Linked DNA regions of Homo sapiens. The protein of the gene in region 1 interacts with the protein of each later gene in a pairwise test. Each region holds a gene or a part of one and is shown in the gene's direction. Other genes may lie near its edges. The genes, in order: RPS6KA5, ALG8, ROBO2, DNAJC11, RAI1 and RNF19A.

What was found.
Region 2: the proteins of RPS6KA5 (region 1) and ALG8 interact in a two-hybrid assay, tested with the Homo sapiens proteins (one large-scale study listed by BioGRID and IntAct).
Region 3: the proteins of RPS6KA5 (region 1) and ROBO2 interact in a two-hybrid assay, tested with the Homo sapiens proteins (one large-scale study listed by BioGRID and IntAct).
Region 4: the proteins of RPS6KA5 (region 1) and DNAJC11 interact in a two-hybrid assay, tested with the Homo sapiens proteins (one large-scale study listed by BioGRID and IntAct).
Region 5: the proteins of RPS6KA5 (region 1) and RAI1 interact in a two-hybrid assay, tested with the Homo sapiens proteins (one large-scale study listed by BioGRID and IntAct).
Region 6: the proteins of RPS6KA5 (region 1) and RNF19A interact in a two-hybrid assay, tested with the Homo sapiens proteins (one large-scale study listed by BioGRID and IntAct).

What each region holds. Positions count from the first base shown.
Region 1 is NC_000014.9:90,871,721-90,876,672, reverse strand, and holds part of RPS6KA5 (ribosomal protein S6 kinase alpha-5), read left to right. Parts: intron 1-1,312; coding exon 1,313-1,472; intron 1,473-2,877; coding exon 2,878-3,041; intron 3,042-4,350; coding exon 4,351-4,599; 3' UTR 4,600-4,952. UniProt on the Homo sapiens protein: Serine/threonine-protein kinase that is required for the mitogen or stress-induced phosphorylation of the transcription factors CREB1 and ATF1 and for the regulation of the transcription factors RELA, STAT3 and ETV1/ER81, and that contributes to gene activation by histone phosphorylation and functions in the regulation of inflammatory genes.
Region 2 is NC_000011.10:78,129,380-78,134,331, reverse strand, and holds part of ALG8 (dolichyl pyrophosphate Glc1Man9GlcNAc2 alpha-1,3-glucosyltransferase), read left to right. Parts: intron 1-4,952.
Region 3 is NC_000003.12:77,046,552-77,051,503, forward strand, and holds part of ROBO2 (roundabout homolog 2 isoform 23 precursor), read left to right. Parts: intron 1-4,952. UniProt on the Homo sapiens protein: Receptor for SLIT2, and probably SLIT1, which are thought to act as molecular guidance cue in cellular migration, including axonal navigation at the ventral midline of the neural tube and projection of axons to different regions during neuronal development.
Region 4 is NC_000001.11:6,691,030-6,695,981, reverse strand, and holds part of DNAJC11 (dnaJ homolog subfamily C member 11), read left to right. Parts: intron 1-4,952.
Region 5 is NC_000017.11:17,792,216-17,797,167, forward strand, and holds part of RAI1 (retinoic acid-induced protein 1), read left to right. Parts: intron 1-717; 5' UTR 718-733; coding exon 734-4,952. UniProt on the Homo sapiens protein: Transcriptional regulator of the circadian clock components: CLOCK, BMAL1, BMAL2, PER1/3, CRY1/2, NR1D1/2 and RORA/C. Positively regulates the transcriptional activity of CLOCK a core component of the circadian clock.
Region 6 is NC_000008.11:100,299,327-100,304,278, reverse strand, and holds part of RNF19A (E3 ubiquitin-protein ligase RNF19A), read left to right. Parts: intron 1-877; exon of another isoform or gene 878-1,119; intron 1,120-2,085; exon of another isoform or gene 2,086-3,751; intron 3,752-4,952. UniProt on the Homo sapiens protein: E3 ubiquitin-protein ligase which accepts ubiquitin from E2 ubiquitin-conjugating enzymes UBE2L3 and UBE2L6 in the form of a thioester and then directly transfers the ubiquitin to targeted substrates, such as SNCAIP or CASR.

The sequences.
Region 1 (4,952 bases):
CCATACCCAGACACAGCTACTTAACACCAGCCAACCCACCACCATTGATGACCAACCCACCATCTCTGCAAGACCAAAAATCAGTGAGCAGAGAAAACCACCCCCAAGAATTTTAAAGGATCACTTTTCTAAAATCCAATCTCTGCTACAAAGATAAGCCTTGGCTTGTTTGTTATTCTGTTAACTTTATAAAGGGGAAAATCTTAAACATAGATTTCAAACATATGGCTACAATGAAAACAGGTGGCTGTAGATAATTCACTGTATTTAAGACAACAGTGAGAAAAATAAAATAAAAACAGGGGTAATTACAGATCAAATAGGAAGGCCTATATGAAGTTTTTCAAGTCCTTAACCATAGTTACATGTCCTGGGGAAAGGATGGTGGAAATGGAATAGAAAAACATAGTTATTCAGGAGTTCTGCTATCTCTCTATTTTCTGTTAACATCAATACCATCTTTTTGAAGCAGTTGGATTATCCTTTTCTGTTCTTATTGCTCTGAATATAGTCATAAATGTGATTTTAAATCTATATCATAACAAGCCATGCCACTGGTTTACAAGTCTTTGAGATGTATTCACTGCCTCAGTGATAGAAGTCACGTAATCTTTTTTTTTTTAATACTTTAAGTTTTAGGGTACATGTGCACAACGTGCAGGTTTTTTACATATGTATACATGTGCCATGTTGGTGTGCTGCACCCATTAACTCATCATTTAGCATTAGGTTTATCTCCTAATGCTATCCCTCCCCCCTCCCCCCACCCCACAACAGTCCCCGGTGTGTGATGTTCCCCTTCCTGTGTCCATGTGTTCTCATTGTTCAATTCCCACCTATGAGTGAGAACATGTGGTGTTTGGTTTTTTGTCCTTGCGATAGTTTGCTGAGAATGATGGTTTCCAGCTTCATCCATGTCCCTACAAAGGACATGAACTCATCATTTTTTATGGCTGCATAGTATTCCATGGTGTATATATGCCACATTTTCTTAATCCAGTCTATCGTTGTTGGACATTTGGGTTGGTTCCAAGTCTTTGCTATTGTGAATAGTGCCGCAATAAACATACGTGTGCATGTGTCTTTATAGCAGCATGATTTATAATCCTTTGGGTATATACCCAGTGATGGGATGGCTGGGTCAAATGGTATTTCTAGTTCTAGATCCCTGAGGAATCACGTAATCTTTTAAACTCAATCATGCTAGTTGTAGCAATTGGTAAATTACACCAGTTACGTTACTATTAGGATTATTAGAGTGGCTTTAACAGATCTGGGTAGTCATTCTGTTTTGTTACTTTTTCCCTGATAGTACACAATGTTGTCAGGACAGGTTCCCTTCCAATCTCATGACCGAAGTTTGACGTGTACCAGCGCGGTGGAAATCATGAAGAAAATTAAAAAGGGAGATTTCTCCTTTGAAGGAGAAGCCTGGAAGAATGTATCCCAAGAGGCTAAAGATTTGATCCAAGGTAAGAATCTAATGAAATTTTACATTTTATATGATGTGTAGTGATTGAAGTAGAATCATGGCCATTACACATACATTCATATGTTAATTACTCGAGGAATCCATGTGTATTCTAAAAGGCTTCCAGGCTACTCTCTTCAGCCTTGTTTTCTTATCAGAACATTCTCTTTAGTAATGGTATCCACATTTCTAACATGAGCTAGCACTTGACTTCCACTGGCATCTCAGTCAAGCACATCTAAAACAAACCAATACTTTTTGACTGTCCTTCCCCCCAAACACGCTCCTCCTCCTGTCTTTCCTCCTGTCAACAGTGGCACTGCTAAGAAGCCAGATCACCAAAACAGAAACCTAGGCGTCCTCCTGGATACCTGCACCTGCCTGCCTTCTGCAGCCAGTCACAGAGTTCTACACATTCAGCAGCGCTCCTAGCAGTCCGGTCCCTTCCTTCCCATTCACCTGCCGTTGCCTTTGTTCTCATCACCATTTCTCTCCCCAAATCCTGCAGCATCCTTTCACCTTGCCTCACTTCCTCTGACTTAAGCTGTTCATCATCTGTCAATAGAGGGACTTTTCTAGAATCCCTATGTGATTATGCCTCTTTTCTGCCAAAAATCCTTTGGAGACTCTCTGTTTGCTTCAGGTCAGACTCCTTAGCCTAGCATTTAACATTCAAAGCCCCTCATGACCTGGTCCTGTCTGCCTTTGTTTCCTCCTCACCCCAGCTCTGCCGTTGCAGGATATTTGAATTCCTCAGATATGCTGAGCTTTCAGATCCCTCCGTGTCTTTACATGCTCTTAATCCTCTTCCATAGCCACTTCTCCTTATCCTACAGGATTCATCTCCTAGAAGCCTTCCAGGATGCCCTCACTCCCTAGGCTACACTCTCCCTCAGGCCTGCTAACACACTGTGCCTGTGTATCTTGCTATCGCACTTATCCCTGATGTTATAATAGCTGGGGTTTTGCCTGTGTGTCTTCTGATATTAATAGCTCCTCTCTGCATCTCCATCTCCATATCTCTAGTGCCTTACTGCACTCCCTGACCTATAGAAGATGGCCAGTAAATGTTTGGTATATGGATGAAGTAGATCTGTGTGCTTTTTGCTCATTTGGAGCTTACGAAGTCACCAGTGGGAATCTTTGTTTTGGATGTTTATTTTCTCCTGATTGAAAAGCCACTTCGCCTGGAGCTTCCTAGAAATAGGCTACTGTGACTTTATCATTAGACTCCAGCATTCACAAAAGAATTTAAATGAATAGGAAAATCTAATTATCTTTGTAGGAGGTTAAAGCTATATAGAAACCATTATGTCATGTGAACATAGCTGAGATTTATTTCTGAGTTTGTTTTTAAACCATGTTTAAAATGACAAATCATAAAATAAAAATATCTATTCCCAAAGGACTTCTCACAGTAGATCCAAACAAAAGGCTTAAAATGTCTGGCTTGAGGTACAATGAATGGCTACAAGATGGAAGTCAGCTGTCCTCCAATCCTCTGATGACTCCGGATATTCTAGGATCTTCCGGAGCTGCCGTGCATACCTGTGTGAAAGCAACCTTCCACGTAAGGCCCTGTGCTCTGTACATGTTGGGCGGTTTGAGTAGGAATCATAATCAAATGTTCTTACTCTGTAGCCTCAGATACGTTTTCTTTGTTTCACATTTAAAATAATATGTGTCCTTTTACTTTTAGGTATGTTTTTATAAATTGCTTCATGGTTATAAACACTTTATAACAATAAGTGCACAGGGGACCAGAGTCACTGCTAACCCACAAAATACATATTTAATTTTTAGAATGACCTTATGAGATGAGATAATAGAACTTTTTCCTCTCAAATAGACTGACTAAATTTCTTTAAAAACCATAATAAACATTAGGAACTAAGGCATATTTGAAAGTCCATTCATTTTACAACCATTTAGTACATCACACATTCTTAAAACTGGGAGGGATATGAAGTAAGTTCATTGGTATTAAGTATAGATTGTATGTTTGAAAGACTGAGACTATTTGGTAGAAACTGTGGATTATGCACATTTGTGCCAAGCAGATGCAAATATATTAAGATAATTCATGTGAAGTATAGTATAAGATGAGTTAGGGAAACAGAAAGTCACCTTCAAAGGGATTATTTTGAGAAAGGAGAAGGTATAGGGATAGTGCTTCTTCAGCAGCAGAAATGGATTTAAAAAGTAATAAACTAGGAAATGTTGAGATGGTAAAGAGATTAACTGCAAGAATTTCTATCAGATGATCCAAATCTTCTCAGTGACATAGGTTGCAAGGTGACAACTACAAGGTGTAACTGCAGCATTATCCAAGCCTAGGCTAAGGAGAGTGAAGACAGGCTGCAGGAGGAGGAAGCCAGGGCAAAGCTGTAGAGCTGTGCTTCTCCATGCGTGTAAGTGTCCAGTATATATCCAAATGACATTGAATGGGACTGAAGAGCAAAGACTCAGAATGCGTCAAGTCTGCTTGCATTGGGACTTTGTGTTCAGAATTTTAAATCTTAGACACAGAACCAGTAAAAGCAATGGGGATAGTTTAGATTACTGATGGTCTTCAGGAATTTCCAGTCAATTGTTTCGTATTAGGATGTAGTACTAACTTCTTCAAAAGATTTATTAGAATTGTGACTCTCAGACCGCCTAGCTAGTTTGATATAAACAGAGCCCTCAGAATTTTTTTCCCATGAACTTCTCCACCCTGCCAATAGACTTAGATATAAAGGTTTTAAGAGCTTTGTTCCCTTAAAACAACTTGGGGCTGCAGTTGCCAATGGAAAGTTGTCTTCTGCTGTAAGTCATAACTGCTAGGAAAGCTTCAGTACTTTTACCTTCACAGGGGTTCCCTTTTTTTCCCCCGCCAGGCCTTTAACAAATACAAGAGAGAGGGGTTTTGCCTTCAGAATGTTGATAAGGCCCCTTTGGCTAAGAGAAGAAAAATGAAAAAGACTAGCACCAGTACCGAGACGCGCAGCAGTTCCAGTGAGAGTTCCCATTCTTCTTCCTCTCATTCTCACGGTAAAACTACACCCACCAAGACACTGCAGCCCAGCAATCCTGCCGACAGCAATAACCCGGAGACCCTCTTCCAGTTCTCGGACTCAGTAGCTTAGGCATGGTAGGAGTGTATCAGTGATCCATTGCACCTTTATTCCCTCAGCATATGCCTGAGGCGATCTTTTATGCTTTTAAAAATGTTTCCCGTTGGTCTCATTGGAATCTGCCTCCTAATGATTTTTTTCAGGAAAACCTGTTTGGTTATCCTCATTCAAAAGCACTGGACAGAGAATGTTACTGTGAATAGAGCACATATTACTCTTTTTAGCAACCTAGCATGATGCCAACAAGACTATTCTTGAAAGAGCAAAGGTTCCTGTAAATTTAATTAGGGCTAGATTTGAGCTGCTTGTAAGTCACAGGTTTTCCAGATGTCTGCCAACAAGAAATGACTCATACTGTGATGATA
Region 2 (4,952 bases), on another chromosome or scaffold:
ACCCCGTCTCTACTAAATATACAAAAATTAGCCAAGTGTGGTGGTGGGCACCTGTGATCCCAGCCACTTAGGAGGCTGAGGCAGGAGAATCACTTGAACCCAGGAGGCGAAGGTTGTAGTGAGCCAAGATCACACCATTGCACTCCAGCCTGGGTGACAAGAGTGAGACTCCATCTCAAAAAAAAAAAAAAACCAGTTTGCCACAAGTCACCCCAATCTTCAGCACCCATAAACCTGATCAATCAACAGCCATCAACATTGAAGCAAAATCCTCCACCAGCAAAAAGATTAGGACTTGCCGAAGGTGCAGATGATCATTAGCTTTGTTTTAGCGATAAAGTATTTTAAAATGAAGGTGTACGCTGTCTTTTTAGACATAGTAGTATTGCACGTTTTATAGTATAGTGTAAACATAACTTTTTTTTTTTTTTGAGACGGAGTCTCGCTCTGTCGCCCAGGCTGGAGGGCAGTGGCGCTATCTCGGCTCACTGCAAGCTCACCTTCCGGGTTCACACCATTCTTCTGCCTCAGCCTACCGAGTAGCTGACCCTACAGGCGCCCCTCACCAAGCCCGGCTAATTTTTTTTGTATTTTTAGTAGAGATGGGGTTTCACCATGTTAGCCAGGGTGGTCTCGATCTCCTGACCTCGTGATCCGCCCGCCTCGGCCTCCAAAGTGCTGGGATTACAGGCGTGAGCCACCGCGGCCGGCCAGTGTAAACATAACTTTTACATGCTCTGGGAAATCAAAAAATTCATGTGACTCACTTTATTGCGATATTCACTTCATTATGGTGGTCTAAACCCACAATATCTCTAAGGTATGCCTGCACTAAAATCGAATGATACAGGAAGCTTAGCATGGTCCACGCACAAGGATAGCATGCAAATTTATGAAACACTTCATATATTTAAAAACGAATGTTTTTAATTGTAGTTAATGCTCTGTTTCTCAAACCAGAAACCCCTGGGATATGAGAGGGAAGTTACAGGATAAATGCAGATATATTCAACAAAACATTTACTAATTGCTTTATTATGTACCAGGTACTGTTGCTAGGCTAGAAGGGAGGAAAAAATAGATATGATCCCTAGCCCTGTGAAGTGTGTAGTTCAGTAAGTATAACAGTACAAGAAACAAATCAATGCAAATATATAGTTACATAACTACAATTTGGATTAAGTATTAGGAAGAAGAGGCTGGGTGTGGTGGCTCACGCCTGTAATCCCAGCACTTTGGGAGGCCGAGGCGGGCGGATCACGAGGTCAGGAGATCGAGACCATCCTGGTTAACACGATGAAACCCCGTCTCTACTGAAAATACAAAAATTAGCCGGGTGTGGTGGTGGGCGCGTGTAGTCCCAGCTACTGGGGAGGCTGAGGCAGGAGAATGGCATGAACCCGGAAGGCGGAGCTTGCAGTGAGCCGAGATAGCGCCACTGCACTCCAACCTGGTCGACAGAGTGAGACTCCATCTAAAAAAAAAAAAAAAAAAAAAATGGAAGAAGAAGAACAGGATCCTATCAGGCGACCAAGAAGGAAGATGTACTTTCAGTTAGGTGTCAGAGAATGTCTCTGAGGAACTGACATCATTGGAGGCCTAAAGTGTGAATGAGAGGGCCATCCATGCAGAGTATGTGGTGTGTGCAAGTGTGTAGAACTTATCTGAAAGAGCACACTGTATAAATATAGGCCCTGTGGTGTGAAAGTATTGACCTATTTGGGCAGCTATGATAAGGCCAGTGTAGCTGGCATGGAATAAGCAACAGAGACAGAAACATGCACAGTGAAATTGGAAAGATAGGCACCAAATCATGCCGGAGCTTATAAAGCCAGGATGAAAAATTTAGATTTTGATTTTATAAGCTCAGTGGAAATGATCTGCATTTATAAAATATTTTTTGGCTCCCATATAAATGATTGGAGGAGGCAGAAGGAGAGTCAGGAAGGCTAGGTGCCCTTTGAGAAAGTCTACATGAGAGAAGATGCTGACTTGAATTGGAGTGGTGGCATTAGAGATAGAAATGGACAAATTAAAGATTTATTTTGCCTTGAGGTCAGGAAGGATTTGCAGAGAAAATAACAACTAACTTTGGAAGTATTTGGTGGTTTAAGAGCCGTAGCTAGGGAGTCAGACTGCCCTGGTTAGAATCTGGCTCTGCTGCATACTGGCTACATGACAGGGCAAGCTGCTTCTCTACGCCACTGGTGAAATGGTAAGAGTTAAAGAACCTACCTCACACAGAGTGTTGCAGGCAGAGGGAAAAGGTGAATGTAGAGTAAGACAAAGACAGGTGGGAGGATGGTGAGAAATGGGCTGAAAAGGTGAGTAAGCGAGATCCAAAAATATCTTTTAGACTATGTTGAGTACTTTAGATTTTATCCAGAGGGCAGAGGCCAGTTAAAAGGGAAATATAACATTCGTGATTTAGAAATACTACTTTGGCTGCAATGTGAAAGCTAGATTAATGAAGGGCCTGAGTGAAGATGGGGAGTTCAATTTAAGAAGCTATCATAGGACAAGTAAGAGATGGTAGGTTTTTGTTTGTTTTAATTTTTAGAGACAGGGCTGGGTGCAGTGGCTCACACCTGTAATCCCAGCACTTTGGAAGGCCAAGGCAGGCAGATTGCTTGAGCTTGGGAGTTTGGGACCAGCCTGGGCAACATAATGAAACCCCGTCTCTACAAAAAATACAAAGAATTAGCTGGAGATGGTGGTCAAAAATTTTAGAGACAGAGTCTAACTCTGTTGCTCAGGCTAGATTACAGTGGCACAGTCATAGCTCACTGCAGCCTCAAATTCCTGGGCTCAAGCCGTCCTCTGGCCTCAGCCTCCTGAGTAGCTGGGACTACAGGTGCACACCACCACACCAGCTAATTTTTAAGTTTTTTGTAGAGATGGGAGTCTCATTATGTTGCCCAGGCTGGTCTTGAACTTCCAACCTCAAGCTATCCTCCCACCATGGCCTCCCAAAGTACTGGGATTATAGGCATGAACCATTGTGCTCGGCTGATTGTAGATTTTGTTAATGCAATTTAAAAAAGTAGTTACTATTTATCATTATGTCTCTAGTCTTAGTTTTGCTTTTTTTTTCAAGTGTCATTTCAGCAATTAAGATTACTTTTACTGATGGGTGCAGTGGCTCACGCCTGTAATCCCAGCACTCCAACAAAAGTGAAGTCTCCAACAGTTTTGAATAGGAAACAACAAAATAAAGCACCCAAAAAAGAGACTGGAAAAAGTCTATATAGTACAACTATATAGGAAAAGAAAGTGTCCCCAAACTCACTCAGATTTTGTAAATGCTGTCTCCAAAGAGAGTAAAAAAGACATGTCTATAAAACAAGAACAGATGCTATGAAACAGGAATTATCAGAGAAACAGTGGTTAATAGAAAATGTTATTGCCAAAATTAAGGACAAATTGAGTAAATCTTTCAAAAATATAAGAGAAAAGATAAAAATTATAAGTTCAATCTAGGGTGTCTAGCATCCATCTAAAAAAATTTCAGAAAAAAAACACAGGGGAGGAGATTAACAAATAATAAATTTCCCAGAGCTGAAGGCACTACATACTCAGCATAATTAATGAAAAAAGACCCTCATGAAGACATTAATCACTAGACATTTCAGACTGCTATGGATAAAAAGGAGAAACAGGAAACTTCCAGAGATGAAGGGAAAACCATAAAGTAAAGAGACTTACCAACATCAACATTTTATACTAAAAACCAATGGAATAAGCTTCCAAAGTTCAGTGGAAGTAAATTTCAACCTAGAATTCCATACAAAATCCAGTATAAAATACCAGAAGTGCAAATCATAAATGTACAGCTCACTGAATTTTTGCAAAGTGAATACATCTGTAAAAAGCATATAGATCAATAAGCAGAATATTATCCCTCGGGCATCTTTCCAGCCACTCCCCACAACCCCACCCCACTAAAGGTATTGATATTCTCACCTTTTTTTTTTTTTTTTTTTGAGACCGGGTCTTGCTCTGTCTCCCATGCTGGAGTGCAGTGGTGCAAACTTGGCTCACTGTAGCCTCAGCCTCTTGGGCTCAGGCAGTCCTCCCACCTCAACCTCTTGAGTAGCTGGGACTACAGGGGCGTGCCGCCATGCCTGGCTAATTTTTAAATTTTTTGAGAGATGGGGTCTCATTGTTACCCAGGCTGGTCTTGAACTCCTGAGCTCAAGTGATCCACCCGCCTTGGCCTCCCGAAGTGTTGGGATTACAGGCGTGAGCCATCATGCCTGGCCTCTGATGTTCTTTTAACCGCATAGGTTAAATTTTGCCTGTTTTTGAATTTTTGTTTGGGTTTTTTTTGTTTGTTTTTGAATTTTATACAAATGTAATCATACAATCTATTCTCTTGGGTCTGGCTTTCACTCAACATTAAGTTTGTGCGTTGTTGTGTAATTACTGTTTTTTCATTCTTATCACTAGATAGCATGGTTCTCAAACTTTTTAGTCAGAATCACTTCTTAAAAATAATTGAGGGTCACAAAGAGCTATATGTTTATGTGGGCTGTATAATAGATAATTACCATTTTAGAAATTAAAACAAATTGTTCAAGCACAAGAATATACAAGCACAAATTTCACTGGCCTTCAGAGTGATGACATCACATTATGTAGCCTCTAGAACATCACTGTATACTTGTGAGAGAATGAGTGAAAGTAGAACAAATTACATCTGAATATTATTATGAAAATAGTACATATTTCAAACTCCTTGAAAGGGTCTCCCTGTGAGTCCCTGAATCACACTTTGAGAACTGCTGCTCTACAGTATTCCATTGTGTGAAAACACCACAATTTATTTAGCTATTCTGCTGTTTGTGGACATTTATCTCCACTTTTTACCTGTTGCAAATAGTTTTACTTTGCACATTTTTTTTTTTTTTTTGAGACGGAGTCTTGCTCTGTCGCCCAGGCTGGAGTGCAGT
Region 3 (4,952 bases), on another chromosome or scaffold:
TGGAGAACTGAAGCTTAGAGATTTTATGTGCCTTGTCACAGATCCCATTGCTACTTAGTGGTAGAGCAGAAACTAGACTCCAGGGATGCTTCATCTCTGTACCAGGCTTCTGCCTATGAGAGACTGTTTCTGGATTCTTAGCCCTGGAACTCCTTAACAAGAATTCCAGGCTCTTGTTACTGAAAATGACCAGCTATTTTCTGAAGAGTCCATGAGAAAATGAGCTTGAATATGTTTAGGTTATTCCTTTGATTCAACACATGCATATTGACAACATAACTTGCTTGGCTCTGTGAAGAACATGCTGACCTGTGAAAATATTCCCACATTCAAGGAAGTCATGACTTGGTAGGGAAGGTACCAAATGTTCAAGTCACTAGAATAAAAAAAGTAGTGTCTGATAAGTAAGAAGTTTGAAGGTGTACACAGTATAGTCTTGAGAACTCAGAGAAGGAATAGGTGATTTCCAGCTGGTACAATCTGGGAAGGGTCAACACCAAATGGGTCTCTTAACCTGGACCTTAGAGGAAGAGTGGGATTTTGGTGGGCAAAAAGATTGGAAATTGAATTCCAGGAAAAGAAGTAACCAGAAAAATGGCATGAAGATGACAAAGGGGTGCTAAGGAAATGGCAAGAAGTCTAGATTGATTGCAACATAGTTTGCCTGTAAGGAAGAAGGATAAGATGGTTATTGAAAGACTACTGAGCAATCACTACTGAATGAGTATGAACAAGTAATTTAACCTTTTTATGCCTCAGTGTCCTTACCTGTAAAATGGGCATGGTAATAATGTATATCTCATACAGTTATAATGAGAAATAAAATAGTTTTAAAAATATAACGATATATAGGCAGGGCATGGTGGCTCACGCCTGTAATCCCAGCACTTTGGGAGGGTGAGGTGTGTGGATCACCTGAGGTCAGGAGTTCAAGACCAGCCTGGCCAACATGGTGAAACCCCCTCTCTATTTAAAAAAAATACAAAAATTGGCTGAGCATGGTGGCAGGTGCCTGTAATCCCAGCTACTCAGGAGGCTGAGGCAGGAGAATCATTTGAACCCAGGAGGTGGAGGTTGCAGTGCCAAAATTGTGCCATTATACTCCAGCCTAGGCAACGGGCAAAACTCCGTCTCAAAAAAATATATATAATGATATATATAAATAAATAAATATATATATAAAATAAAGATGTATATAAAGATATATATGGGCTGGGCGCGGTGGCTCACGCCTGTAATCCCAGCACTTTGGGAGGCTGAGGCAGGTGGATCACGAGGTCAGGAGGTCGAGACTATCCTGGCTAATACGGCGAAACCCTGTCTCTACTAAAAATACAAAAAAATAATTAGCCGGGTGTGGTGGCGGGCGCCTGTAGTCCCAGCTACTTGGGAGGCTGAGGCAGGAGAATGGCTTGAACCTGGGAGGTGGAACTGGCAGTGAGCCGAGATCGCGCCACTGCACTCCAGCCTCGGCGACAGAGTGAGACTCCGTCTCAAAAAAAAAGATATATATGATGCCATGAACAGTGTACTTTATAAATGCCACTCAAGCATAACTTATTGTTATAATTAGTAGTATTTTTATTAGATTATTATTCCCTGCCTAGTATGAACAAGGAAAATAACTAGAAGAGGACTTTGCTATCAGACTAATTATGGACTACAATTGGGGTGCATGTTAGGACAATTTTAATAAGATTTTTCAGCTGTGAGTCTTCAGGTGACTGATTAAGAATTTTTGTTGCCTCTTAAGGGAACTTATCGGTGGCCTCGCCTACACAGCTGTGACAGTTGTGCTATGACATGTGTGTTTCCATTGCATCATAAGCTGATTACAAAACACATGTGATTCCCAAGTGAAAGGTGCGACGAATGAAGATAGTAAACAAGAGAGGAATCACACAAATGGCAATTTGTTAGCAAGTAGACCATGCTTGTGTAAGCCTGCATTTTGGTTCATGTTGGCTGATTTACATTTCATCCTGGATAATTTTTACCTGGTGCTTTGATATAACGTACTGTGGAGATAAATCTTGTGTAAGACAAACTAAATAAACACTTTGAGAACCGAAGACCTAAGTAAAAATTAACATTTGGTATCCACTCACTAATTCGTTTTCTAGATAGCCCCCTTAGCTTCCCTTCATTTAGTATAAGACATTGAATCTAATAACTTTTTATAATTATCCATTAGTTACATTTGCACAATGAGTAGTTATGCATATCAGAAAGGATAGCCTGAATAAAACAATATCATTACTATTGTGGAAGTGACATACCTTTGGTGACCAGATCTCTGGACTGCACTGTTAGCTTCCCTAGTGGATTGTTAATTGTTCTAATTGCCTTAGAACCTTACCAAAAATGGTTTCATTTGACTGTGTAATTTCCAAGGTCTCCATGAACCTTAGGTTTTATTATCCCAAGTACTTCTGTTTAATGTTCCAACATTTATTGTTATATCTGAGAATTTTTAAAGAAGAAAATTTAGCCTGGGCTCGGCGCAGTGGCTCACCCCTGCAATCCTAACAATTTGGGAGGCTGAAGCTGAAGGATCGCTTGAGCCTAGGTGTTTGAGACCAGCCTGGGCAACATAGTGAAACCCTGTCTCTACAAAAAAGAAAAAAAGTTAGCTGGGCATGGTGGTGTCCACTTGTGGTCTCAGATACTTGGGAGGCTGAGATGAGAGGATTCCTTGAGCCCAGGAGGTTGAGGCTGCAGCGAGCCATGATTACACCACTGCACTTTTGCCTGGGTGACAGAGGCCCCGTCTCCACACACACACTCACACAAATTTAGGCTTGAAAAGAATTATCCAAAACCATAAACATCCATCTTTAAAAACAATAACAGTCTATTGTCTAATATGCATGTAGCATATCTGTGTTTTGGTGTGGGTTCAATGATATGGCTATGGATATGCATGACAGCCAAAATTAACTAGTCTTATGATTCACATCCACTCTCATTCATTAATGACCAGTGGTACTTAGGCTTTCCTTATCAATAAATGGAATTTTAAAAATTTAATACTAAGGAGACAATAGTCTTAGGTCAATGTGCTTAGTTTCTGGCCACTATAACTAGAACCATATGCAACATGGAAATTTTAGCTCAGGAGAGGGGGTTAACAGCCACTTTTTAATTTCTGTTGTAAGGATTGATGTGGGATCTCTTTCCCTAGACTTTGGTTCCAAGCTTTTTGGAAATGAGCTGGAGAACATGGAATATAACTCAACTATCCCACTGAAAGGCTTTTCAAGTTTAAGCAAGGAACACCCAGTTGAAACCAGACTGGAATTTAAGGGATTTGGACCAAACCTCTGCAGCACTTATAACCAATTAAAATGTTCATAAGTGTGATTCAAAAAGGGAGAATTTTGACTTTCCAAAAAACTTGAGTTAAGAGTTATTCATTATAAAGGAAAGTTTATAAGTTTTTATAAATCAAGGTTAGAGTCGTACTTAGAAGTTTTATAATACGTATATTTCCAAATACTAGCAAATGCTAGAATATGATTAAACTTATTTAGATATATCCGATTATTATAAAATATAGATTTCAGGGTTAGAGTAAATTAGGGGAAATTTAGAATGAATCTAGCAACAGGCACTCTTGTATTTTATATCTCTATTATAAAGTAAATTTTAATACGTTGCCAGATAACAGTACAGTTATTGAAAACCAAGCTTATTATTGTTCCATTAAATCAGAGACAGCATTTCACCTTCCTCATCTTAAGCATTTCACCTTCCTCATCTTAAGTATATAACCGTTTGTGTATTCTAAGTACCTTTGAATGCCAGCAACAACAAGCTATTACTCAAACGCCAATTGTTTTAGTGCTTCTTACCCCATCTCTATCATGGGTTAGCGTAGAAACTGAGTAGGAGAAATGTAACCTTTTAAAAAGAAAATGCCATTTCTGTTTCTTTACTACTCTAATAAACTTACTTTCATTTAAAAAAAGAAAAGAAAATGCTAGGTACAACATTCTCAGTCTTTGCTTTTGTGTGTTTTTTTTTTTTGTTGTTTTTTGGTTTTTTTTCCCCATGCAAAATTGACTAAGAAGAGTTACAACATTTAATGTGGTGGTCTCAAAACATTTTTTTTTTTTTGCATTGTAATTGTTTTCGCATAATTTCAAGAGTTAAACAATAATAATGAAAAGATGTTTCAGGCCACACAGCGTGGCTCATGCCTGTAATCTCAGTACTTTGGGAGACTGGGAGGATCTCTTGAGCCCATGAGTTTGAGATCAGCCTGGGCAACATGGTGAAACCCTATCTTTGCAAAAAAAAAGAAAAAAAAAAAAATTAGCTGGGCATGGTGGTGCTCACCTGTAGTCCCAGCTACTTGGGAGGCTGAGGTAGAAGGATTGCTTGTGTCTGCGAGGTCAAGGCTGCAGTGAGCTGTGAGTACACCACTGCATTCCAGCCAGGGTGACAGAGGGAGACCCTGTCTCAAAAAAAAAAAAAAAAATTCATCAAATGGGCATATGAGCCCTGAACTCACAAATCAAGTTGTCATTCAGTTGAGGTTTAAGGCCTCCTTTTCTGCCCAAAACCAGATTTAACTGGGTTATTCCTCACTGGCTATCATGAAACATGTAAATACATTTCATAGCTAAGTATGTTTTTAAGTGTTTCAGTCCCACCTTTCTGATTTGAAAGCCTGAATAATGTCAACTTTTAATACTAAAGTGAAAGAAAAAAGAATCAGAAAATATGTACAACATGTGGGTACAGATTTTGGGCAAATATAGCTCTTACCCCCTTGCCTCCCACCTCCCTGTACACATGGCAATAAGACTATTATGAATAAACTGAGGTGTTTGATGCCTGCCCTCTACTCACAATCCAACAGACAACTTGTATTTTAAGAACCCTTTCCAGGCTGGGAATTCTTATTACACTTTCCTGTTAAACTGTAGCACCTGTGATGTTCATCA
Region 4 (4,952 bases), on another chromosome or scaffold:
CTGCAGAATGGAGGCACCAGTACTTCTTAGTTAACAATGGGATAGAGGGAGGCCACTATGTAGGGCTTTGCAGCTGGAGTCCAGTATTCAAATCCCATTTTACTCTTCTGGAAGTTCTATGCTTCAACGCTAGTAATTTAACCTTTCTGTTTCTCAATTTCTTTTTTTTTTTTTGAGATGGAGTCTCACACTGTCACCCTGGCTGGAGTGCAATGGCGCAATCTCAGCTCACTGCAACCTCCACCTCCTAGGTTCATGCAATTCTCCTGCCTCAGCCTCCCAAGTAGCTGGGATTACAGGCACACACCAGTACACCCGGCTAATTTTTTTTTTTTTTTTTTTTTTTTTTTTTTTAGTAGAGATAGGGTTTCACTATGTTGGCCAGACTGGTCTCAAACTCCTGACGTCGTGATCCATCCGCCTCGGCCTCCCAAAGTGCTGGGATTACAGGCATGAGCCACTGCACCTGGCCATCAGTTTCTTTAATGTTAGAATGTAGGTAACAGGTAATAATGGCTTAAGCACTTACTGTAGGCCAGGATGACCTGTGTGGTATGTGCGTTGCTAGGTGCTGAGAATGTATATAAATTGCCTGTCATAAGTAGGTATTTAGTTAATATATATTGTTATTTCTTGGATTTTGATAAGTTTGAAGTTTTGCTTACTTTAAAAAAAGACATAAGGATTGGGGGGTGGCTCACACCTGTAATTCCAGCACCTTAGGAGGCTAAGGCAGGAGGATAACTTAAGTCCAGGAGTTTGAGACCAGCCTGGGTTGGCATAACGTAGCAAGACTCCATCTTTAATTAAAAAAAAAAATTTTTTTTTTTTTTTTTTTGAGAGAGTCTCGCTCTGTCACCCAGGCTGGAGCGCAGTGGCACAATCTCGGCTCATTGCAAGCTCTGCCATCTGGGTTCACGCCATTCTCCTGCCTCAGCCTCCCGAGTAGCCGGGACTACAGGCACCTGCCACCACGCCCAGCTGATTTTTTTTTTTTTTTTTTTTTTGATTCGGAGTCTCGCTTTGTTGCCCAGGCTGGAGTGCAGTGGTGCGATCTCGGCTTATTGCAAGCTCCGCCTCCCGGGTTCACGCCATTCTCCTGCCTCAGCCTCCTGAGTAGCTGGGGCTACAGGCCCCCACCACCATGCCTGGATAATTTTTTTTTTTTTTTTGTATTTTTAGTAGAGACGGGGTTTCACCGTGTTAGCCAGGATGGTCTCGATCTCCTGACCTTGTGATCCGCCCGCCTCAGCCTCCCAAAGTGCTGCGATTATAGGTGTGAGCCACCGCGCCCAGCCAAAAAAAATTTTTTTTAATTAGCTGGGCATGGTGGCATGAGCTGTAACCTGTAGTCCAGCCTAAGGTGGAGGTGCAGCCGAAAAGCAGGTCAGTTGTTTACCGCATGCAGAGTCCAGTTAACAAGAGTGAGGCGCATACAAAGCCAGTGAATTTACTCTGAAGTCAGCTTGGGGAAGGGGCACGATGTCCTGCTGTACCGCTTCACTTTTAGAGCAGAAAGCAGGCACTTTTATAAGGTATAGGAGGAAATGAGCAAGGGCAGGGGTCCCCCTGCTATCTGGGTACTTTATCTAACTGGCAATTGAGTTGGCATCTTCCTGGGCAGAAAGAAGTAAAAGTGGCCATGGGGACATGATTTGGTCTGCAAATCCACTGTCAAGAGATCCGTCTTGGAGCACGTAGTTAGCTGAACTTGCCCCATAGAAGATGTCTGGTGAGGGGGAGGGGAAAGGTTATATTTGCATTTCTAAAGGGCTAAGTAGGAAGCAGGGTACCGGGGAAAGGGGGAGAGGAGAAAATAATTAAACTATCTCTTAGAAAAAATGGGGCTGGGCATGGTAGCTCATGCCTGTGAATCCCAGCACTTTGGGAGGCTGAGGCCAGCGGATCACTTGAGGTCAGGAGTTCAAGACCCACCTGGCCAGCATGGTGAAACCCCATCTCTACTAAAAATACAAAACTTAGCCAGACTTGATGGCGGGCGCCTGTAATCCCAGCTACTCATAAGGCTGAAGCAGGAGAATCTCTGCTGGGAGGTGGAGGTTGCCGTGAGCAGAGATCGCACCACTGTGCTCCAGCCTGGGCAACAGAGCGAGACTCTGTCTCCAAAAAAAAAAAAAAAAAAAAAATGGGGGTACTTGGTTACAGGAGGATTGCTTGAACCTAGAAGTTTGGGGCTGCAGTGAGCTGCAGTCACACCACCACACTCTAGGCTGGGCGACAGAGCGAGACTTTGTCTATAAAAAGCGAGACTCCGTCTATAAAAATAATAATAAATAAAAGGCTGGGCGTGGTGGCTCATGCCTGTAATCCCAGCACTTTGGGAGGCTGAGGCGGGTGAATCACGAGGTCAGGAGTTCGAGATCAGCCTGGCCAACATGGTGAAACCCTGTCTCTACTAAAAATACAAAAACTAGCTGGGTGTGGTGGTGGGCGTCTGTAATCCCAGCTACTCGGGAGGCTGAGGCAAGAGAATTGGTTGAACCCGGGAGATGGAGTTTGCAGTGAAGCAAGATCGCACCACCACTGCACTCCAGCCTGAGCGACAGAGCAAGAATCCATCTAAACGATAATATAACAATAAATAAAAATGTGAAAGACATACATGTACATAAATAAATTTAAAAATGTGAAAGACATACTTGGTATGCTTCATCCTGGCTAAGGATGAACTTTGCTATCCACTTGTAATATTACTAAAAATCATAGTGCTAGAATGTATGCTAAGCATTAGTTTATGAAATTCCTGAGGTTGGGTGTGGTGGCTCACGCCTTACAGTCCCAACGCTTTGGGAGGCGGAGGCGGGCAGATCACCTGAGGTCAGGAGTTTGAGACCAGCCTTATTAACATGGCGAAACCCTGTCTGTACTAAAAATACGAAAAAAAAAAATTAGCCGGGTGTGGTGATGCTCGCCTGTAATCCCAGCTACTTGGGAGGTTGAGACAGGAGAATTGCTCAAACCCAGGAGGCGGAGGTTGCAGTGAGCCAAGATTGTGCCACTGGACTCCAGCCTGGGCAACAGAGCAAGACTCTGTCAAAGAAAAAAAAAGAGGCTGGGCGCAGTGGCTCATGCCTGTAATCCCAGCACTTTGGGAGGCTGAGGCGGGCAGATCACCTGAAGTCGGGAGTTTGAGACCAGCGTGACCAACATGGAGAAACCCCATCTCTACTAAAAATACAAAAATTAGCCAGGCGTGGTGGCAAATGCCTGTAATCTCAGCTACATGGGAGGCTGAGGCAGGAGATTCACTTGAACCCGGGAGGCAGAGGCTGCAGTGAGCCAAGATCGTGCCATTGCACTCCATCTTGGGCAACAAGAGCAAAACTCCATCTCAAAAAAAAAAAAAAAAAATTCCTGAAGCATTTTTTACTTTCTGTTCAAAACACTGAGTTTGTTCTTTTTAAAAGACAGTGATCTCTCTGAACTTGTGCTTCCTGGAAAGTTGACATGGGGATAGGGAGCTTTCCTGGAAGTTGGGGCTAAGTATGGGAGTAGGGTGCAGGCTCAAGGATAACATTTTTTGGGTGTTTGGGGTAAAGATAGGATAGTTGTGAGCCAAGCAGAGAGGAGGCAGAGCTGGGGGCAGGGGTGGGCCCAAGAGGGTGCCCGGGAAGTGGAGTTTAGAGAAGCTGCCTGTGTGCAGGGAGGGGGCTGTTGAGGATGCCCCACCACTTCCAATGTCATCTCATAATGTGATTGGCAAACGTGAGGTTACATTTCACAATGTGTTTCTTTAATGATCTATAAGCCAGTTATTTTCTGCTTTGGGCATTTCAAACAATTGCTTCTTGAAATGTTAATGCTCTAATTTTGCATTATCTACCAAAACACCTCTTTTATTTTCTTTCTTAAAGAGAATTCAATGGAAAACTTTTGTATTTGCTGTGAATTTAGTAATAAAACAATGGAAAACGGGACATGAGAGCAACATGCTTTGCTTGGCTGTAGAATTTTATTGTCTGCTTTTTATTAACCTTTCATTTTAATTTTACTTACTTACACCTTTGTTTAAGAAAGGATGTAAGACAACAGATGAAAAAATAAAATAGCATATATTTTTTAAAGGAGTCACACATTTCTTAAAAAGAAGACAATTGAGAACATTGCTGCATTATTACCACTGTTACAGCATATGCCTGGTACAGATTGCAGTCCCTGGAAGGAGCTTGCAGCTTGGAGTGGAACCTCCTTCGAGATGAAAATCTGACAGCTGGATTCCTGTTTGGCTCATGGACTGTTGGAACCACTTCTGCATGTTTTGAGTGTGCAGCCTACCCTCCCTAGTTGACAGGAGCCAGAAAATTCTTCAGCAGTAAAATGCCAAGCCAATAGAGATCAACCACAAGAAGTCTGCATGAGTAGGCAGGGTATAACGGATGAACACGAATGACAGAAGGTATAAGGTCAGGCTTTTAGGGAGAAATAAGCCGATTTCTTACTGTGAAGATAGGATCTGAGCCATCAATTTTGGTGCAACTCTGGAGCTTGTTTCTAGAGACTGGGGCCTTTTGATTTTCTATTAGTCTCAAGGGCAACAAATATATATATGAACATGACCAGGAAGAGTAATGAAAACCAAGTTGTACAATGGTAGCAGAAGATTTCCTGAGCCCTTGCAATGACCTCTGATTGGGAGTCAGGATTTTTGCACCTTGGGCCCATTTGTTCTTGAATTCTGTGATTGTAGCCGAGATGTGTGCTGCAAGACCTGATTCCTTCTCTGCCCCGTAAACCTTACAGGTGATGTGCTTCCTGCTTTTTTTTTTTTTTTTCAGTCTTTGGGATTCTGTTGTTACTAATTGTGTAATCTTTTTTTCAAATTTATATTGCCATCTTGGAGGTATTGTGTTTTGTAAGTTTTTTCCTTAACTCTGTGTTAAGTAGAACTCACTTAAGTTTCAAAAATTGTTCCTATTTGTAGAAACTTTTTA
Region 5 (4,952 bases), on another chromosome or scaffold:
ATGTCTACAGTGGCTTGGCAGCCCCTAATCGATGTCTGCTAGAAGGAACAGACAGATTCCAGATGGCGTGGCAGTGATAGAGGAGGTGTGTGTGTGCATGCGTGTGTGTGTGTGTGCGCGCGTGTGTGTGTGAGCATACATATGCTTGTGTGCACGCATGTGCGTGGGGACAGGGGCAGACCCTCCTCAGTCCCCAGCATGGCTGGGTCATGCTTGAACACGGTCGCGAAGGGACTAAATTACAGGATCCAGCAGGCCCCAGGGGATGAGGGAGCGGGAATTGCTCTGCTAAATGCTTTTGAGCTGTCAGGAAGGGCTGGGAGTGATGGGTGGGGGACATTGGGGAGGAGCTGGCAATGGGCGGGGGGGGGGCGGGTAGCTCCCCAGTGACCTGGCGCTGGGCAGCCGGTTTTGCCTCCCGCATCAGTGGCCGTCCTTGGCAAGACTCAGCTGCAGGCGATGTGGGAGCGGGAATTACAGAGCACACCTCCCTGACACAGAAGTTGTCAATATGCGCACAGCTGGTGGGGAGGCTCAGGCGAAGGGGGGACTATTAAGAGCTGCGCGGGGGAGCAGGCAGGGTGGGGAGGTGGGTGGGAGGGTGCTTTCTGAGGCAAAAGGAAGTGGCCCGTCTGAATCGCTCATCCTCTGCCCCCTCCCTGCCCATCCTCCCCTCCCTCCTTCCCTCCCTCCCTCCCTTCCTTTTTCTTTTCACAGATAACCAGCCCGAGTCATGCAGTCTTTTCGAGAAAGGTGTGGTTTCCATGGCAAACAACAGAACTACCAGCAGACCTCGCAGGAAACATCACGCCTAGAGAATTACAGGCAGCCGAGTCAGGCCGGGCTAAGCTGCGACCGGCAGCGGCTGCTCGCCAAGGACTATTATAACCCGCAGCCTTACCCGAGCTATGAGGGTGGCGCTGGCACGCCCTCTGGCACTGCAGCCGCGGTGGCCGCCGACAAGTACCACCGAGGCAGCAAGGCCCTGCCCACACAGCAAGGCCTGCAGGGGAGGCCGGCTTTCCCTGGCTACGGCGTCCAGGACAGCAGCCCCTACCCAGGCCGCTATGCTGGTGAGGAGAGCCTTCAGGCTTGGGGGGCCCCACAGCCACCACCCCCACAGCCGCAGCCACTACCTGCAGGGGTGGCCAAGTATGATGAGAACTTGATGAAAAAGACAGCAGTGCCCCCCAGCAGGCAGTATGCAGAGCAGGGCGCCCAGGTGCCCTTTCGGACTCACTCCCTGCACGTCCAGCAGCCACCGCCGCCCCAGCAGCCCCTGGCATACCCCAAGCTCCAAAGGCAGAAGCTGCAGAACGACATTGCCTCCCCTCTGCCCTTCCCCCAGGGTACCCACTTTCCTCAGCATTCCCAGTCCTTCCCCACCTCCTCCACCTACTCCTCCTCTGTCCAGGGTGGTGGGCAGGGGGCCCACTCCTATAAGAGTTGCACAGCACCGACTGCCCAGCCCCATGACAGGCCGCTGACTGCCAGCTCCAGCCTGGCCCCGGGGCAGCGGGTCCAGAATCTTCATGCCTACCAGTCGGGCCGCCTCAGCTATGACCAGCAGCAGCAGCAGCAGCAGCAGCAGCAGCAGCAGCAGCAAGCCCTTCAGAGCCGGCACCATGCCCAGGAAACCCTCCATTACCAAAACCTCGCCAAGTATCAGCACTACGGGCAGCAAGGCCAGGGCTACTGCCAGCCGGACGCAGCCGTCCGGACCCCAGAGCAGTACTACCAGACCTTCAGCCCCAGCTCCAGCCACTCACCCGCCCGCTCCGTGGGCCGCTCACCTTCCTACAGTTCCACACCGTCGCCGCTGATGCCAAACCTGGAGAACTTTCCCTACAGCCAGCAGCCGCTCAGCACCGGGGCCTTCCCCGCAGGGATCACTGACCACAGCCACTTCATGCCCCTGCTCAATCCCTCCCCAACGGATGCCACCAGCTCTGTGGACACCCAGGCTGGCAACTGCAAGCCCCTTCAGAAGGACAAGCTCCCTGAGAACCTGCTGTCGGATCTCAGCCTGCAGAGCCTCACGGCGCTGACCTCACAGGTGGAGAACATCTCCAACACCGTCCAGCAGCTGCTGCTCTCCAAGGCTGCTGTGCCGCAGAAGAAAGGTGTCAAGAACCTCGTGTCCAGGACCCCAGAGCAGCATAAAAGCCAGCACTGCAGCCCCGAAGGGAGCGGCTACTCAGCCGAGCCCGCAGGCACACCGCTGTCAGAGCCGCCGAGCAGCACGCCACAGTCCACGCATGCGGAGCCGCAGGAGGCCGACTACCTGAGCGGCTCCGAGGACCCACTGGAGCGCAGCTTCCTCTACTGCAACCAGGCCCGTGGCAGCCCTGCCAGGGTCAACAGCAACTCGAAGGCCAAGCCCGAGTCCGTGTCCACCTGTTCTGTGACCTCTCCTGACGACATGTCCACCAAATCTGACGACTCCTTCCAGAGCCTACACGGCAGTCTGCCGCTCGACAGCTTCTCCAAGTTCGTGGCGGGTGAGCGGGACTGTCCGCGGCTGCTGCTCAGCGCCCTGGCACAGGAGGACCTGGCCTCCGAGATCCTGGGGCTGCAGGAAGCCATCGGTGAGAAGGCCGACAAAGCTTGGGCTGAAGCACCCAGCCTGGTCAAGGACAGCAGCAAGCCACCCTTCTCGCTGGAGAACCACAGCGCCTGCCTGGACTCTGTGGCCAAGAGTGCGTGGCCCCGGCCTGGGGAGCCGGAGGCCCTGCCCGACTCCTTGCAGCTGGACAAGGGCGGCAATGCCAAGGACTTCAGCCCAGGGCTGTTTGAAGACCCTTCCGTGGCCTTCGCTACGCCTGACCCCAAAAAGACAACTGGTCCTCTCTCCTTTGGTACCAAGCCCACCCTTGGGGTTCCTGCTCCAGACCCCACTACAGCAGCTTTTGACTGTTTCCCGGACACAACCGCTGCCAGCTCAGCGGACAGCGCCAACCCCTTTGCCTGGCCAGAGGAAAACCTGGGGGATGCTTGTCCCAGGTGGGGATTGCACCCTGGCGAGCTTACCAAGGGCCTGGAGCAGGGTGGGAAGGCCTCAGATGGCATCAGCAAAGGGGACACCCATGAGGCTTCGGCCTGCCTGGGCTTCCAGGAGGAGGACCCCCCTGGGGAGAAGGTGGCCTCGTTGCCCGGGGACTTCAAGCAGGAGGAGGTGGGTGGGGTGAAGGAGGAGGCAGGTGGGCTGCTGCAGTGCCCCGAGGTGGCCAAGGCTGACCGGTGGCTGGAGGACAGCCGGCACTGCTGTTCCACCGCCGACTTCGGGGACCTCCCACTGCTGCCACCCACCAGCAGGAAGGAGGACCTGGAAGCTGAGGAGGAGTACTCCTCCCTATGTGAGCTCCTGGGCAGCCCCGAGCAGAGGCCTGGCATGCAGGACCCGCTGTCACCCAAGGCCCCACTCATCTGCACCAAGGAGGAGGTGGAGGAGGTGCTGGACTCCAAGGCCGGCTGGGGCTCTCCGTGCCACCTCTCAGGGGAGTCCGTCATCCTGCTGGGCCCTACAGTGGGCACCGAGTCAAAGGTCCAGAGCTGGTTTGAGTCCTCTCTGTCACACATGAAGCCAGGTGAAGAGGGGCCTGATGGGGAGCGAGCTCCAGGGGATTCCACCACCTCGGACGCCTCTCTGGCCCAGAAGCCCAACAAGCCTGCTGTGCCCGAGGCGCCCATCGCAAAGAAAGAGCCTGTGCCACGGGGCAAAAGCTTACGGAGCCGTCGGGTGCACCGGGGGCTGCCCGAGGCCGAGGACTCCCCATGCAGGGCACCAGTGCTGCCCAAAGACCTCTTGCTCCCTGAATCCTGCACAGGGCCCCCCCAGGGACAGATGGAAGGGGCTGGAGCCCCAGGCCGGGGGGCCTCGGAAGGGCTCCCCAGGATGTGTACTCGTTCTCTCACGGCCCTGAGTGAGCCCCGCACGCCCGGACCCCCAGGCCTGACCACCACCCCTGCACCCCCAGACAAACTGGGGGGCAAGCAGCGAGCCGCCTTCAAGTCGGGCAAGCGGGTGGGGAAGCCCTCACCCAAGGCTGCCTCCAGCCCCAGCAACCCGGCCGCCCTGCCTGTGGCCTCCGACAGCAGCCCGATGGGCTCCAAGACCAAGGAGACAGACTCACCCAGCACGCCTGGCAAGGACCAGCGCTCCATGATCCTTCGGTCACGCACCAAAACCCAGGAGATCTTCCACTCCAAGCGGCGGAGGCCCTCTGAGGGCCGGCTCCCCAACTGCCGTGCCACCAAGAAGCTCCTCGACAACAGCCACTTGCCCGCCACATTCAAGGTCTCCAGCAGCCCCCAGAAGGAGGGCAGGGTGAGCCAGCGGGCAAGGGTCCCCAAACCTGGTGCAGGCAGCAAGCTCTCTGACCGGCCCCTCCATGCGCTCAAAAGGAAGTCGGCCTTCATGGCGCCGGTCCCCACCAAGAAGCGGAACCTGGTCTTGCGGAGCCGCAGCAGCAGCAGCAGCAACGCCAGTGGCAATGGGGGAGATGGGAAGGAGGAGAGGCCTGAGGGTTCCCCCACCCTCTTCAAGAGGATGTCTTCTCCCAAGAAAGCCAAGCCCACCAAGGGCAATGGCGAGCCTGCCACAAAGCTCCCACCCCCGGAGACCCCCGATGCCTGCCTCAAGCTCGCCTCTCGGGCAGCCTTCCAGGGGGCCATGAAGACCAAGGTGCTGCCACCCCGGAAGGGCCGGGGCCTGAAGCTGGAAGCCATCGTGCAGAAGATCACCTCGCCCAGCCTCAAGAAGTTCGCATGTAAAGCGCCAGGGGCCTCTCCTGGTAATCCTCTGAGCCCATCCCTTTCCGACAAAGACCGTGGGCTCAAGGGTGCTGGGGGCAGCCCAGTGGGGGTGGAAGAAGGCCTGGTAAATGTGGGCACCGGGCAGAAGCTCCCAACTTCTGGGGCTGATCCGTTATGCAGAAATCCAACCAACAGAT
Region 6 (4,952 bases), on another chromosome or scaffold:
AATATAAAACCAACTTTTGTCAGGCATGGTGACTCATGCTTGTAATTCCAGCACTTTGGGAGGCCAAGGTGGGCAAATCACCTGAGGTTAGGAGTTCGAGACCAGCCTGGCCAACATGGTGAAACCCTGTCTCTACTAAAAATACAAAAAAAAATTTACCTAGGTATGGTGGTGGGCACCTGCAGTTCCAGCTACTTGGGAGGCTGAGGCAGGAGAATTGCTCCAACCTGAGAGGTGGAGGTTATAGTGAGCCGAGATTGCGACATTGCACTCCAGGCAGGGTGACAAGCAAATCTGTGTCTCAAAAATAAAAATAAATAAATAAATAAAAACTTTTTTTTGGAGACAGAGTTTCACTCTGTCACCCAGGCTGGAGTGCAGTGACGCAATCTTGGCTTACTGCACCCTCCGCCTCCCAGGCTGAAACGATTCTCATTCCTCAGCCTGCCAGTAGCTGGGATTACAGGCACCTGCCACCACACCCAGCTAATCATTTTTTTTTTTTTTTTTTTTTTTTACAAGCGGCGAGGTTTTGCCATGTTGGCCAGGCTGATTTCGAACTCCTGGACTCAAGTGATCCGCCCACGTCAGCCTTCCAAAGTGCTGGGATTACAGGCGTGAGCCACTGCACCTGGCCCATTTTTAAAATTATGCACAAACGTTAAATATCCTTTAGATTTTTGCATAATTTAGCATACCTTACTGATGTCCTTAGCAAAAATTTCCAGAACCATATTTTAGTGTGTTGCATGGTAACCCCACAAAAGATATGTTCATGTCCTAATCCCCAGAATCTGCAAATGTTATTTGGAAAAAGGGGTTTTGCAGATGTAATTAAGTTAAGAATCTTGAGATAAGATCATCCTGGATTATCCAGGTAGCCTCAAAATCAAGTGACAAGTGTCTTTGTAAGGGACAAGTAGACCCATTACAGAGAAGACGACGCGCAGAAAAGGAGGAAGCAGTGTGCTCATGGAGGCGGAGATTGGAGTGATGTAACCGCAAGCCGAGGAATGCTTATAGTCACCAGAAGCTGGAAGAGTCAAAGGACACATTCTCCCCTCAAGCCCCAGTGGGAGCACGGCCCAGCTGGATTTTGGACTTCTGGCCTCCAGAACTGTAAGAGAAATGTCCATTGTCTTAAGCCAACCAGTTTGTGGTAGTTTGTTACAGCAGCCCCAGGAAACTACTATGCAGTCAAAAGTCTTCAGTAAACCAAAAATCTCTAATTATCGTTGTTTTATATCATGTGCTATGATGATCAGAGACTAAACAGCTCTTTCGTTAGAATTCTAATTCTGAGAAATATCAGAGGAAGTGTTTTAATACCCTCCAGTCTCAACAGGAATCGATTATATCTTATAAGATACATTTTGTTATTTTGCTTGTATCGTTTCTTTCTTCTCCTAACTTGCTCCTTCTTTGCTCTTTGTATACTTTTTAAGATGTAGTTGACATGGGGGAGGGGAATGAGTAAAACACTAGTAGGATAGACCAACAGGTTTTGTCTTCTTTAAAGTGTAATTCCTCCATGATCCCCCTTCCACCTTTTCTGTCTCCTTTACTGGATTCGCCTCTTCTCCCCTACATCTTAATGTTGGGATGCTACAGACCTCATTCCCTACTCTTTAATATTTACTTTTTGGTGATTTCATCTGTGTTCACGATTTTACATACCATCCAAATAACAGCAACTCCAAAATTTACATCTCTAGGCTTTACTTTTTTCCTAATCTCTGGGCTTGTCAAACGGGTGTTTGGATATACATCTCCACCTAGGTATAAGAGATATCTCAAGTATAAATGTCTAAAAATGAACTTCTGGTCTTGGCTCACTCTTAAAACTTGTGTTTCATAGCCTTCCCCATTTCAGTTGATAGCAGTTTCAGCCTTCTGATTAATCAGGCCAAATCCTCTTGTAATCCATCAGGAAATCCTTACAGTTTTACCTTCAAAACATGTCCTCAACACCTTCACTGATGTGCCATCGTCATCTTTCTCATAGATTACTTCAGTAGTCTTTAAACTGTTCTCTGTGCTACCATCCTTAATACCTCCCCATCTGTTCACAACACTTGAATGATCCTTTTAAACTTAGATTTTAAACTATCTCTGTCACTTTAGAAACCCAAGTTTCCCTGTCTCACTTAGAATAAAAGCCAAAGTACTTACAGTGGCCTTAACCCCACACAACCTGGCATTCTCATGTATCTCAGATAGTCTTTGCCTTGCTCATTAATTTTCAGCCATATTAGGGCCTCCTGGCTATTCCTTGAGCATACCAGACACATTCCTCCCTTAGGGGCTTTGCAGTGGCTGTTCTGTGCCTTGGATGCTCTTTCCCCAGATTTCCACATAGCTAACACCTCCTTTACCTCCTTCAGGTCTCTGCTAAATGCCACCCTTTCAATGAGACTGTGATCACCCTGTTTAAAATAGTAATCAACACCACACATACACTGATCTCCTTTGCTCTGCCTAACTTTTTTCCCCACCTTCTAGTAAAGAATAATATTAAAATATTTAGACGATATTTAGAAAATTGTAAACTTGTATATAAGAGCATGGAGTAACTTTTAGTAATGCTTATTTATAGTTACTGACCTAGAATGATTGTGGAGATAAGATAGGAGTTGGGCCTTGAAAGAGGAGTAGGACTAGCAGTGAAGATGGAAAAGAATACTCCAGGCAGAGACAAAGGCGTAGGAAAATTCATAGAGTTGAAACTATATATGTTTTGTTAAGATATTTAACAAATAGGTCAGTTGGCTAAAGTGTGGGGTTTTTATGTAGAACAGTGAGAAACTGAGGTTGCACTGTGGAGGGCTTTTAATGCCACAGGAAACTTGAAATTTATTCTTCATCTCGGGGAAACCAGTGGAAATTTGTAAGCAGACTTTAACAAAGAGGATAATGTGGTAATTTGGATACCAGGTGATTAATGAAGGCCTAGTCTAGGCAGTAAGATAGTAGAAAGAATGCTGAGCCTTTAGCTCTGCCACGTTAGCTGTGTGGGTAAGTCACATCTCTAGACCAGTGCTGTGCAATAGAACTTTCTGTGGTGAAGGAAATGTTCTAGACCTGTTCAGTCCAATATGGTAGCCAATAGCAACCTATGGTTGTAGAGCATTTGAAATGTGACTAGCACAACTGAGGAACTAAAATTTAATTTTAATTTAAATAGCCTCATGGGACTAGTGGTGATACATCGAACCTACTAGCTCTAAATTCAGTTTTCTCACTTACAAAAATAGGTTAGATTAGAATGCTAGAGTCACTAGAAGGATAGGTTTCACAGCCACATAAAGTTGGTGCAGCCTCTTGAGAAGAGCAAGTAAGTACATGAGCACAGGGACCTTTACATGACTAGTTTTTTTGTCTGTGTGAAATAGGTCCAGAATTTGTAGCCTTTTCACTCTTTGTATCTTCTTGACTTACTTAAAAGACTCACTCTGTTTTTTGATGGCTGCTTTTTCAAATTAGTCTTTGGATTACTGTCTCCCAGGAGTTGACTAGTTAAATATCTGATACATCTAATTTAATAGTCTGTTTTAGAATTGTAGTTAAACTGATTATGTTGCTTTTGTTTTTTTATTTTTTAATTTTTTTCTATTTCATTTTTTTCAGAGACAGGGCCTCACTGTGTCACCCAGGGTGGAATACAGTGGTGTGATCATAGCTCACTGCAGCCTGGAATTCCTGGGCTCAAGCAACCCTGCCACCTCAGCCTTCCAAGTAGCTAGGACTACAGGTGTGCACCACCACACCCAGCTAATTTGTGTAGTTTTTGTAGAGATGGGTTTCACCTTGATGCCCAGGCTGCTCTTGAACTCCTAATTTCGAGTAATCTGCCTGCCTTGTCCTCCCAAAGCGCTGGGATTGCAAGCATGAGCCACCATACCATGCCCAGCTGATTTTGTTGCTTTTGAATTCTCAGTAAGAAAACCGTAACAGAGATAAACCTTTATGATTGTTTACCTGCTGTGTAATTATTACCTAGATTTTTCTGTCTTTAGAAAATACTCCCTTTTCTTTCCTTATACAGTTAATAATATTTCCTTTGTACGTGAGTTTTTAATCTCATTTTCGGGAGACTTGTGTAAAGAGAAGCTAATTTGAATACTACATACCCAAAGGGAAACAGACACATTTTGCTTATTGTGCCTCTTGGTTCCCAAGAGATATTATTCCATCTGAGAATTACCTTATAGTTTGAAGAAAATTTTAAAACTAAGTTCTAGGATCTCTACCAAACACCTCTTACAGATTGCACTCTTATCTCCTATGTACATATATCATTCAATTACATGCACACACAATGATTTAGCTAACCAGAGGTCTTCCCTCCCCCTTACTCATGGTGTCCTTTAGGAGAAAGAGACAAATGAGCTTCCAAAATTGGAGAGGTGGGATGCTACTGTTATCAATAATTTGTATGGAGTTGAGGGATTTCCAGAGAAAGTGGTTAGGATAAGATTAGTCCAAACACTTAATACTTTTTTTTTTCTTTTTTTTATTTTGAGACAGAGTTTTGCTCTTGTCACCCGGGCTGGAGTGCAATGGCACAATCTTGGCTTACTCAACCTCCACCTCCTGGGTTCAAGCAATTCTTCTGCCTCAGCTTCCCGAGTAGCTGGGATTAAAGGCATGTGCCACCACACCCAGCTAATTTTGTATTTCTAGTAGAGACAGTGTTTCACCATGTTGGCCAGGCTGGTCTTGAACTACTGACCTCAGGTGATCTGCCCACCTTGGTCTCCCAAAGCGCCGGGATTACAGGCGTGAGCCACCGCACCCGGTCCAAACACTTAATACTTCTAATTGTCCAAATAGTAGAATCACATTAATCATGAGACTTGGTAAAATTCACTTTGACACTGAATTTACTAAGAAGAGTATACTAATACTTGGGAGAATTTGGAGACATTTTGTAAAGAACAGAAACAACAATT